Regions from separate parts of the Homo sapiens genome. Here region 2 is linked to region 1. The links come from fine-mapping of genetic effects on gene expression. A gene starts in region 1. The other region holds a variant in brackets. All regions are shown on one strand. Distances are from middle to middle. Region 1 holds the start of KLF8 (KLF transcription factor 8). Region 2 holds the start of LOC124905193 (a long non-coding RNA gene).

Region 1 (5,380 bases):
CTCCACCCTGGTAGTTTGTCAGCTGGCTTTCAGGAGGAGGAGAAGCGGGATGATGAAGAGGAGAAAGAGAAGAAGGGAAGAACAGCATATGTGGGCCCAGAATCGTGTCTGCATATTTCTCAGCTGCTTTTCATTAGGTTCCACACTTAATTTAACACTCCTCATCTGATTACTTGGATATATAGAGGAAAGCACAGGCTGCTTCTTCAAGCAGTCTCCCTCACGCATAAGGTGGGATGGAAGGAGTTGAAAATATCGCAGGTTGCTATTTGGTTCATGTTTATTCTAGCCAGCTAAAGAAAGGAGAGCCTGAGGTGTTTCCTAGACGGACAGGGAAATTTATCAAAACTTCTAGTTCCCCATACCTGCTCCCTCACACCCTTTCGTGTGACATAGACAACACCAACCACATGCTGATTATTTCTATGTGTCAAGAGTAAAAGAATATAAAGGCAAACTCCTGCCTTTGACATTAACTGTGGTCATGGGTTTCATAGTTCCCTGTGAACCATCTTTGGGTCCTAATTTGAGTGAGACAGAGGCCATCTCTAAAGGACTTGAAGGGGAAATGTGGACTAATAGGCTGTGTGCGTACAGTGAAATTGAGGGTTCATCCACTGGAGCCTCTTAGAATGGATGTTCTCATTCCACCGCCCCCCAACACCTAGCATTGTTCTTGATAAAGCACAGGTGCTCAATACATTTTATTGACTGAATAGATGAAAGAACAGATGGGAAAGGATCTTGGGTTTGTTTTTCCAAGTTTCAATAACTTCAAGTTTTCCAAAAACTGAATTTGCCATCTAAGGTCTAAGTTTTCCCCACAAATAAAGTTGAGGCAGTATTTCTAAAACAAACAAAAAGCTAGAGCTTAAAATAAATTTGTCAACAATAAAGACTTTTAATAAAATATAAACTGTTAAGCTATCTGTGTATGGATCGACCTTCTTGAAAAGCTATTTCAGACTGAAAAAGTAACTCGATGACCTTAAGGCACACCCACTGTATTCAGGGCTAGTAGTGGCTACTCTTTTCAAAATGTTACTTCAGCAATCTACTCATTTTCATCTGCACATCACAAAAATGCATTTATTATTGATATAAACTGCTTAATGTCTTTCACACACTTGAATCTAAGAGAAAACTTTTCAGCATTGCTCAAAACAGTGCTGTAGTGGTAAGAATCCTATATTGGATAATACTCCCCAAATTTTATACATTGAGAAACAAAGCCTCCAAGGAATAAAGTAAATTTTTTAAATGAAGGCATAGAGAGTTGTACACTTCTCTGTATGATTCCATCTCAATATATCTTACCTTGTAAGCTTGGCAGGGGTGCAGGTCGTGGTGAAGAGATATAGTGAGATAGAGAGTTATTTATGAAACCCCTACTACAGGGACATTCTTTTATGAAACAAATACATATGCATGTGTATTTATTTAACCTGTCACTAAGTTTCCACATCTGTAAAATGGGGATAGCAATGTCTACCCATAGGATTGTCAGAAGGATTCAATGAGTTAATATACATAAGAGGCTTACAACAGAGTTTAGTACATAGTTAATGCTCAATAACTATTATTATTGTTAATAATAATATAACTTGGCATCCAAGTTACAGAAATGAGATCGCCTGGTGCTTCAGCTCAAGGACTTTATAGTTTAGTAGGGGGAGGCAATTATACCAACAAATATGTGCCCCGAGGTAGAGAAGGGCACAGAGGAAGCAATGGTCAGTTTTGCCTGAAGAAATTAAGTAAGGAGGGGAGATGACCTTGAGTTAGTCCTTTCAAGAAAGTGGACAGATTCATTGGAAGGACATGCAAGAAAAAAAAAGGTGGACAGAGAGCTTAGTCTATTTCAGTCAGAGAAAGTAAAGCAACCCAAGGCATAGAGATTGGAAACAGCTTGGAATTCCCAGGGATTTGTAATCCAGGTAAAGCCCAGGAGAACAGCAAAATCTCTGCTGCTTGAGAGGCAGACAAAGGCCAGATCACAGCAGGTTAAAGGATGAGTTCCAGGGTGCTGCCTTGGATGTATGGTGGTGCCATTCAGGTAGTTGGTGAACTACAGGAGGAAGAACAGAGTGTTTTGGGGAAAGGAAGGTAGATGAGATGCACAGAAGACATTCAGGCAGAAATATCAACTAAGTAAGTAGACCTATGTGTTCGAAAGTACTGGGCTGAGGCCTTCCGTTTCCTTATTTTTTTAAATAAAGGGCACAGAGAATATAACAGTACCTAGTTCCCAGGGTTGTTATTGGGACTAAATGGGGAAATGTTGAATGTAAAAGCACCTGGCTCAGGGACTTGCCCATATTAGGTGCTGAATACATGGCAGATATTATTATTTCTCCTGTCTCTTTGCTCTTCCTCCCTCTGCTTTGTTTCTTGTCTCTCTTCTTTTTCCTCCTCTTTAAAAGAATTGTGGTAGGGAAGAGGCACTGAAAATGGGCTGTGGTTGCTTGTGACTTCCTGGCCTCCCATTAAAATGAGCTAGAGAGAGACTTTCAGGCAAGCGTAAAGAAATCCTGGAAACATGGCTCCTATCCTGTGGATTCAGCTTTACGGGGATCTTCGCCAATGCCTGGCTGAGAGGCGGTCTCAGGGGGTTGAGAACTCTATTCTTAGAGGTCTGGTATCTGGGAGACTGAGAAAGCCTTTCTTAAGTCTCCCTGCTGGGCCACGCTGTATTCACAGATCATCTTCAACTCCTTCTTCTTCCCCACCTACTCCTTCGCCCTCACCTCCTTGGCTTATCTCTTGCTAGAAAATGCACCAAGCTCCAATCTCCGTTCCTTTTAGCTTCCTCCCTGAGAAGACACTGTGACCTCGCTGTCCTTGTTCGTGTTACCATGGAGAGGTAGGAGGATAAATATCGCTTCCAGTTGTCAGCTTTTTTGTTTTCTCCTTTCCCTCTTAGACAGCCCCCAGCCCCAATCCCAGTACCCGTTTCACCACCCTCCCCTGGAGAATTAGCATAACCGGAGTAAATAGGTAATCAAGCAGTGTGCTTGCAAGCCTTAATTTTGGGACAGATAAGGAAGTGAAATTGATTGGAATTATACCTGCCGCTGCTGGAGGCTGAGGGAGGCGGCCGCCGGAGGCGAGGCCAGCTCTGTCGGCCCAGGGCCCCGCCCCACCCCCTCCTTCCTCCCTCCTCCTTCTCAGCCCCACCCTTCTCCACCTCCTCCCACTTTGCACTCTCCTCTAGCGGCCGCCTGTCCTTTTTAAGGAACTCCACCCTAGGTGGAGTCCTCACGATAGTCACACCTCTCCTTTGGGCCTAGCAGGGCCAGAGAAAGACGGAATCACTCTACCCACTCAGGTTGCCCAGAGAGCACTTTAGGTTCTGACTCGCGTGGGGCGCGAGGTACCCCGTGGGGCAGCTAGGTGCCTCCAAGAAACCCCGCCCCAGAGGACCCGCACGAGTTGCTGCCATTTTTCGCTGAAGCCCCTGCCCTGGGGCTGGTGTTCTTCTCTATGATTCTACCAATCGTCGGCATTTTTTTCCTCCCTTCTTTCTTTTTAGGAAGGCGCTGGGGTGTGCGGCGGCAACGGCGGCGGTGAAGGGATCCTCTTGTGGTATCTCCTCGTGGGTTCCTGTCTTGAAGGATTTCTTCTCCGCCTCAACTTTATGTTCAAGTAGCGCTTTGGGGGTTGGGTTGGTTTTCATAGCCCCCACCCCCGGCCCTCTCCTTTTAAAGGGTGTGTGGAGTTCAGAGGATGGGTGGAGAGCGGGCTTGGCCGGAACTGAATTGGTAGAGGTAAAAGGGGAACGGAGGACCTTAAGCTCTGGCCACTTCGGCCCAGCGAACCCACTTTATTTTTGTCCAAGGAAAAGCTGCAGGGGGGAGGATTCTTTTTAGGAAGTCTACTCTGCCGGCCCCTGATTTTTGGGTTGGATGCTTGAGAGCTTTGTTTCCCTTGTTCCGAGAGTGGCCCAGCTGGGTCTGAATCGACTCCCTCCCCTTTCGACCCCCTCCTCATTTTCCAGCCCGGAGAAATAGGGGAGTGGGGGCCCAAGAACGAGAAGACGAGAACGCGTCGCCCTGCGCTATGTCAGAATGGGGCGGGTGTGAGGGGAACAGCTCTCTTGCGATCAGCTCAGGAGTATGAGCCTCCCGGAGGACGGCATGAGTTCTGGACACTTCAGGAGTCCTCAGCTAGTGACATGGTCGGTAAGTGACTCTGGGACTAATACCCACCCACTCCCACCTCTTTCGTCTAGATTCTATCCCCCTCCCAGTCCCCCTGCTCCCCCCACACACCCCACTTGGGGTTTCAGCAGTGGGGGCGGGAGCGGAAGGTTAAGAACACTATGTGGAATCAAATGAAACTCAAGGGAAAATGACTTTGCTAAAGGGCTGGGCAAAGAAAGGCCAAGAAGGAGAGGAGAGAGCTTGGTGGAAGAAGTGAAAGGGGGCAAGAATGGATGGATTTGTCTAGTCTAGTCTCCCCTGGCTCGGCACTCCCAATACTCCTTAAGCGGTAAGGATTGTCTTTGACTTAACCCCACACAGCCAAAGTCACAACCAGAGAGAACAGGATTCACAAGGCCAAAGCTCCCAGGTAACCCCCTGAAGCCATAGCGGGTACCTAGAGAAGCTTCTGAAAAGAAGGAGGAGGGGACAGTGGTTTAAGGTGCAAAGTTAGGCTATTGGAGGCACAGAGTGAGGCCTGGAAGCAGCTGCGGGGGAGGAGCTGCTTTGGGCGTGCCAGCTCTTTAAGGAGGGGCTGAGCTTGGTTGGAGAAGGAAGCCAGAGCCTAGGCTCTGCTCCGGCCCTTTAAGACGTGGCCAAGGCAGTTGGTTCGTCTGTGTAGGTGGAAGACTGACTGGGCCGAGTTGCTGTGATTGCTGAAGTGAATCCATTTGTTTAGCCACTTGGCGGAGCTGTCTTTTTGTGGGCTTTTTTTTTTAACCCTAAGAATTTGGGAAAAAATAAATCACATCCAAACAGGTGGCCAAAGGCACCATGTCTTATTTCTTTTGGTATTATATTCATCGTGAAGAAACGCATTTATTAAGCACCTGTCACCCAGTGTGGTAATAATTGAGCAAAAAGAATAATCTTTAAATTTGGATTTGAAACTGATGGAGATTGCCATGGTTTGGGGTAATCTGCTTTGAAACCCTAGTATCACCACTTATTAGCTGCATCACCCTGGGCCTTGCTTTTCTCTTCCATAGAATGCAGATTAATAATTCTATCTCAGTAGATACTCGGGTGGATGAAATATCTTGTGTATGTGGCAGAGGCTGCCACTTGTATCTTAGTTCAACTTCCCTTTTCTACTCAGTTTGGAACTATTTTTCTGGACCACTGCTGATAAAATTAGTGTTTTTCTGTCCTTAAAACACCTTCCAGATGTGGTAAAA
Region 2 (5,380 bases), 200 kb before region 1:
TTGAGTTAAAACTCCAACTGCCATTTTTTCTCTTTCTGACACATAGAGTGTGAAGGGCTTGGTCAAATCTGGTAGTCCCAGAGCTGGGACTGACATAAGTTTTTCTTTTAACTTACAAAAGTCTTGCTGTTGTAGAGGCCCCCATTCAAAGGGCTCTCAGTCGCCCCCCTTTGTAACCCCATACAACAGTTTGGCTAGCACGCAAAGTTTGGAATCCATAATCTGCAAAACCCACAGCTCCTAGAAATTCCCTTACTTGCCTTCTGGTTTTATGTTCTGGTAGGCTGCAGATGACCTGCTTTCTTTCTGACCCCAGGCTGTGCTCCCCTTTCTGAATAGTGAATCCCAGGTAGCATACCTGCTGTCTGCAAATCTGAGCTTTCTTCTTGGACACCTTATATCCACAGTCCTCCAGGTGCCAAAGTAGGGCATCCATCCCTTTTGCACACCCGACTGCTGTGGAGTGTCCTAGCAGAAGGTCGTCCACGTACTGGAGCAAGACGCAGCCTAGGTCTTTAGCAGGAAACTTCTGGATGTCTCGAGCCAACGCCTCCCTGAAGATGATGCGGGAATTTTTGAACCCTTGGGGAAGCTGAGTCCAAGTGTACTGTGTGGTGACACCTGACCCCGGGTCTTCCTACTGAAAGGCAAACAGTTTTTGGTTCTCAGGAGCTAGTCTAATGCTAAAGAAGGCACCCTTCAAGTCCAGGCAAGTGAACCAGCCATCCTCAGCCAGCAGCAATCCTAACAATGTGTAAGTGTTAGGAACTGTTGGGTGCAGAGTCACAGTAGCTTGGTTAACCAAGCATAAGTCCTGTACGGGCCGATAGTCCTTGGTCCCTGGCTTGGGGACAGGTAGGAGGGGGGTGTTCCATGGAGACTGGCAAGGAACTATAATTCCAAAAGCTTTCAAGTGTCTAAAATGTGCCTGTATTCCTTCAAGAGCTTCCCTGGGAACCGGATACTGCTTTTGTCTGATTGGCTGGGCCCCAGGCTTAACTTCTATGAGTACAGGGGCTTGATTGATCACCAGCCCTGGAGGATTGTCCTCCACCAATACTCGGGGCCATTGCTTAGCTAGTGCCGGTTTTATCTCCTGACCTGGCTCGGTTAGAAAAAGGCTCCATTCTTCTCAGGGGACCATAAGGACCATGATAACTCCTGTTCCCGGTAACTTCAGCTATAAAGAGCCCTGTTTTGTAAAGGAAATGGTGGCTCTCAGCTTGCTAAGCAAGTCTCTGCCTAACAAAGGCAAGGGGCAGTCAGGCATATACAGAAATTGATGAGTCACTTTATGTCCTTCTATCCAAGCAGGTCCACGGTAGGTAGAAAACCTGCTTGGTGGAGACTCTTGCTCCTATTATATCAGCGGTTTTCTTAGATAAGGGGGCCACTGGGGTGGTTACTACTGAGTGTTCAGCACGGTATTGACCAAAAACTTAATGTCCTTGACCCCTATTGTCATCCTGACCATGGGCTCCTTGGGGGCATTTGAGCTCGATCCCCTTCAGTCTAGAAGCCCTTCGGCCAGATTAAACAAAGTCCCTTCGTCTTTTTCTATGGTCTTTTTGCTCTGCATCACCTTGCTTCTCTTTTAGTTGGGGACATTTATCTTTCCAATGTCCTATTTCTTTACAGTAGGCACATTGGTTACGCTGCAGACGTGAGCGATTGGACTGGGCATTCCTCCCAGAACACCCCTTTCCCTGTCCCTTCGTGGGGATTCCCCTAATTGCCACAGCCAGCAAATCAGCGTTCCACCTGGCCTGGCGTTCTCCCTCCTTATGGCTTTCTCTGCGGCTTGTTGCATCACTGTTTACAAATATTTGATTAGCTATCTCCAGTAACTGCGAGATATTCATTCCTGCAAAACCAGCCTGTTTTTGTAATTTCCTTTGGATATCTTCTGCACTTTGACTAACTAAGGCCATGTTAATCATATGCTGATTTTCAGGACTATCTGGATTGAAAGGAATGTACATATGATAGGCCTCACACAGTCTTTCATAGAATTGGGCTGGGCTTTCCTCCTTTCCTTGGATGACTTCAGAAACTTTATTTACGTTGGTGGCCTTTTGAGCCCCTTTTTTTCAGACCTTCAATTAATGCCTCCTGGTATTGTCTTAGCCTCTCCATATCTGGTCCTTCATTCAGATCCCATTGAGGGTCCATTCCTGGCAGCTGAATTCTTATGTATTCCTGGGGATTTTGGTAATCGGCTGGGACATGCTCCTCTAGCCATTTAGTTGCTGCCTGGAGCACCCTTCGCTTTTCATCTGTGTTAAAGAGGTACATGAGTAGCTGGTGGGAATCAGCCCAAGTAGTATTATGAGTCTGTATAATAGTTTGGAGCAAGTCAATTAGAGCTTGAGGCTTTTCAGTGTAAGATGGAGTATTATTTTTCCAATTGAGGAAGTCAGCAGAAGTGAAAGGGTGATACACAAAGGCACGCCTTTCCATCATGTGTCCATCCTCATCTATCCCAGTATATTGCTGCTCTCTCAGGGGCATTTGTGTTCCAGTCTTGGGCTGTAAGCGAGCCACCAAGGGAGGAGTTTCTCCTGCAGCTTCACTTCCTTTCTTGTCTACTCTGGGTGGTCTAGGGGCTGTGAGCTCAGGATTAGGGGGCCTCTCTGCTTGGTAAGGGAGGGGCACTGTTGGTGCCATCTCCTGCCATGAGTCTTTGGGCTCTGGGTCAGACAGAACTTTAGGGGCTGGCTTCTGTCAGCGGGTGGAGTGAGGACCTTCCTTAACTAACTGTCCCTTTGCTACTAGTACTGCTGCTGCCTGTCCTGTTAACCACTGTGGGGGATCTAAAACTAGCTGTAACCAGGAATCTATATATGGGAACTGATCTGGGTGTCCTGGCTTGCCAGTTACTTTGTGCCATACCTTTGAAACAAGAGACCTCTCCAGGCTTCCTTCTGATGGCCAACCTACCTCTAATTCTGGCCAATCTATTTCACACAAAGTTCTAAGTTTTCCTGGAGTCATAGTAACTCCATAGTCTCCTTTGAATCCTTTCTTGAAATTCTTTAACATAGTTCCCAATGGGGTGGGCTTACTTTGTGCCTGACCCATGTTTTCTCAAGACAAAATATCATGCTCACACCACACACTTACCACAAAACAAAGAACA[G/A]GTAAAGAGGGCACACACACACCTTTATCGTTTATACCAAACCAAAATCAGAGTATCAAGAAATTTAAGCCAAGTCAAAACCAAAACCAAAGTATCAAGCAATTCAAGTCAAGTCAAAACCAGAACAAAAGTGCCGATACAGGCATGCTGTGGGTGGTCAGGCCATGCTTCCACTCAGATGGAGTGGGCAAGTTTCAAAGACTATTCTTACCAAGTTTCAGATGTCTGGACTCCAAGTGCCATTTCCTTCCCTGTGTTCAGCCACTGCTTTGGTCCTCCATGGGGGCTTGCCACACACTGCTCTGGTGAGGCGTTCCACCGGGCCAATTGCCTACCCGGGAGCGCTCTTTGGATCATGTCGCTCGGGTAGGCTGGAGTCCTCTGCAGGGATGCTCCACAGGGCAGGCCTAAGCTGCCTAAGGGGCTGCCTCGGCTGTCCATCAGTCACCTCGTTTCCCAGTCAGCGAACCAAGAAATGTAGCAGGACGAGCTGCGGACAAAACCCCACAGACACCGAGGTAGTGAAGGTAGTGGCTTTAATCAGCTGGAAGGATCGGCAGACTAATGTCTCAAAATCCGAGCTCCCCGAGTGCACAATTTCTGTCCCTTTTAAGGGCTCACAACGTTAAAGATTTTACATGAAAGGGCCGTGATCGATCGAGCGATCTAGGGGGTATGTGACAGGGGCTTCATGCACCAGTAATCAGAGTGAAACAGAACAGAAGGAGAAGTTTCACAATGTCCTTCCATACAATGTCTGGAATCTATGGATAACATCGGTTGCTAGGTCATGGGTTGAATTTTAACTACCAGGTTAGGTCACGAAGGCCCAGACCTGGTTTTGGGTCTGGTTTTGGGTCTGGTGCCTGGCGCCGGGCTGCCTGCCTTTGGTTTCCACTTCCTTGTTTCTTCTTAAAACAGGTACCGAGTATAAAACAATATAAAACAATATGAGGGGTCTCTTTTTCTCTTCTCTCACCTTGGCCTCCCAAAGTGCTGGTGATTACAGGCATGAGCCACCATTCCTGGCCCTTAAATATTTGTTTTATTTGGTTTTTGTTGTATATGCCTCAAGTCTTTCATTTTTTTATTGAGGTATAATTTATATTTAGTAAAATTTATTCTTTTTACATCTACAGTTCTTTGAAATTTGGCAATGTATACCATTCTGTAACCACCACTATAATCAAGATAAATAATGTTTCTGTCACCTGAAAAGGCTCCCTTGTGCTCTTTTGTAATCAACTCCTCCCTCTAATTCCCAGCCTTTATCAACTACTGATAAGATCTCTTTCACTGCAATTTTGTTCATTATAAACTGTTATATAAGTGAAATTATAAGTTTATAGCCTTTTGATTCTTGCTTCTTTTACTCAACATTTTTCTCAAGATTCATCTGTGTTGTTGTGCATGTCAGTAATTCTTTATTGTTGTTGTTCAGTAGTTTTCTATTGTATGAATATAGCAATTTGTTTATCCATTTATCTATAGATGGACACTTCAGTAGTTTCCAATATTTAGTGACTATGAATAAAGCTGTTTTAAACATTTGCAGACAGATTTTCCTGTGGACAGATTTGTGTTTGTATTTTGGGATGGGTAAATACCTAAGAGTGGAATTACTAGGGATTATGTTAAGTAAATGTTCAACTTTACTACCAACTGCCAAACTGTTTTCCAGACTGGCTTTAAAATTTCTCAGTCCTACCAACAATGTATTAGAACTTCATTGCTCCACATCCTTGCCACCATTTGTGTTTTTAAATTTTATAATACATTAACAAATAATAATTCTATATATTTATGAGGAACATATGATATAGATATATAATGCAGTATGATTGAACTAAGAAAAGTGACATATCCATCTCCTCAAATACTTATCATGTATTCTTCCTATCTAACTTAAACCTGTACCTTCTTAGCAACATCTCCCCATTCCCCAACCCAACCTCTGATAGCCACCATTCTACTCTCTATTTCTTTGATTTAGATTATTTTATATTCAAAATAAAAGTGAGATTATTCAGTATTTTTCTTTATGTGGCTGGCATATTTCACTTAGCATAATGTCCTCCAGTTTTATCCACGGTGTCGCAAATGACAGGATTTTTTTCCTTTTCAGGGCTGTTACTCCATTGTGTATACATACTGCATTTTCTTTATCAATTTTTTTTGATGGGCACTTAGATTGATTTTATATGCTGGCTATTTTGAAAAATGATGCAATGAATATAGGAG

The links. PIP is the estimated chance that this variant, and not a neighbour inherited with it, causes the effect. A credible set is the group of variants that fine-mapping cannot tell apart.
Region 2: its variant is the best candidate, but not a certain one, in a credible set for the expression of KLF8 in whole blood (TOPMed, PIP 0.53).

What each region holds. Positions count from the first base shown.
Region 1 is chrX:56,229,161-56,234,540 of GRCh38, forward strand. It overlaps KLF8 (KLF transcription factor 8), which reads left to right and starts at 3,196. Exons shown (of 6, transcript NM_007250.5): 1 at 3,196-4,181. The coding sequence starts at 4,175.
Region 2 is chrX:56,028,103-56,033,482 of GRCh38, forward strand. LOC124905193 (a long non-coding RNA gene) reads right to left here and starts at 3,524. Exons shown (of 3, transcript XR_007068247.1): 1 at 3,351-3,524; 2 at 359-640. It also overlaps a transcript of KLF8 not described here. The variant G/A (reference allele first, on the strand shown) is at 3,140.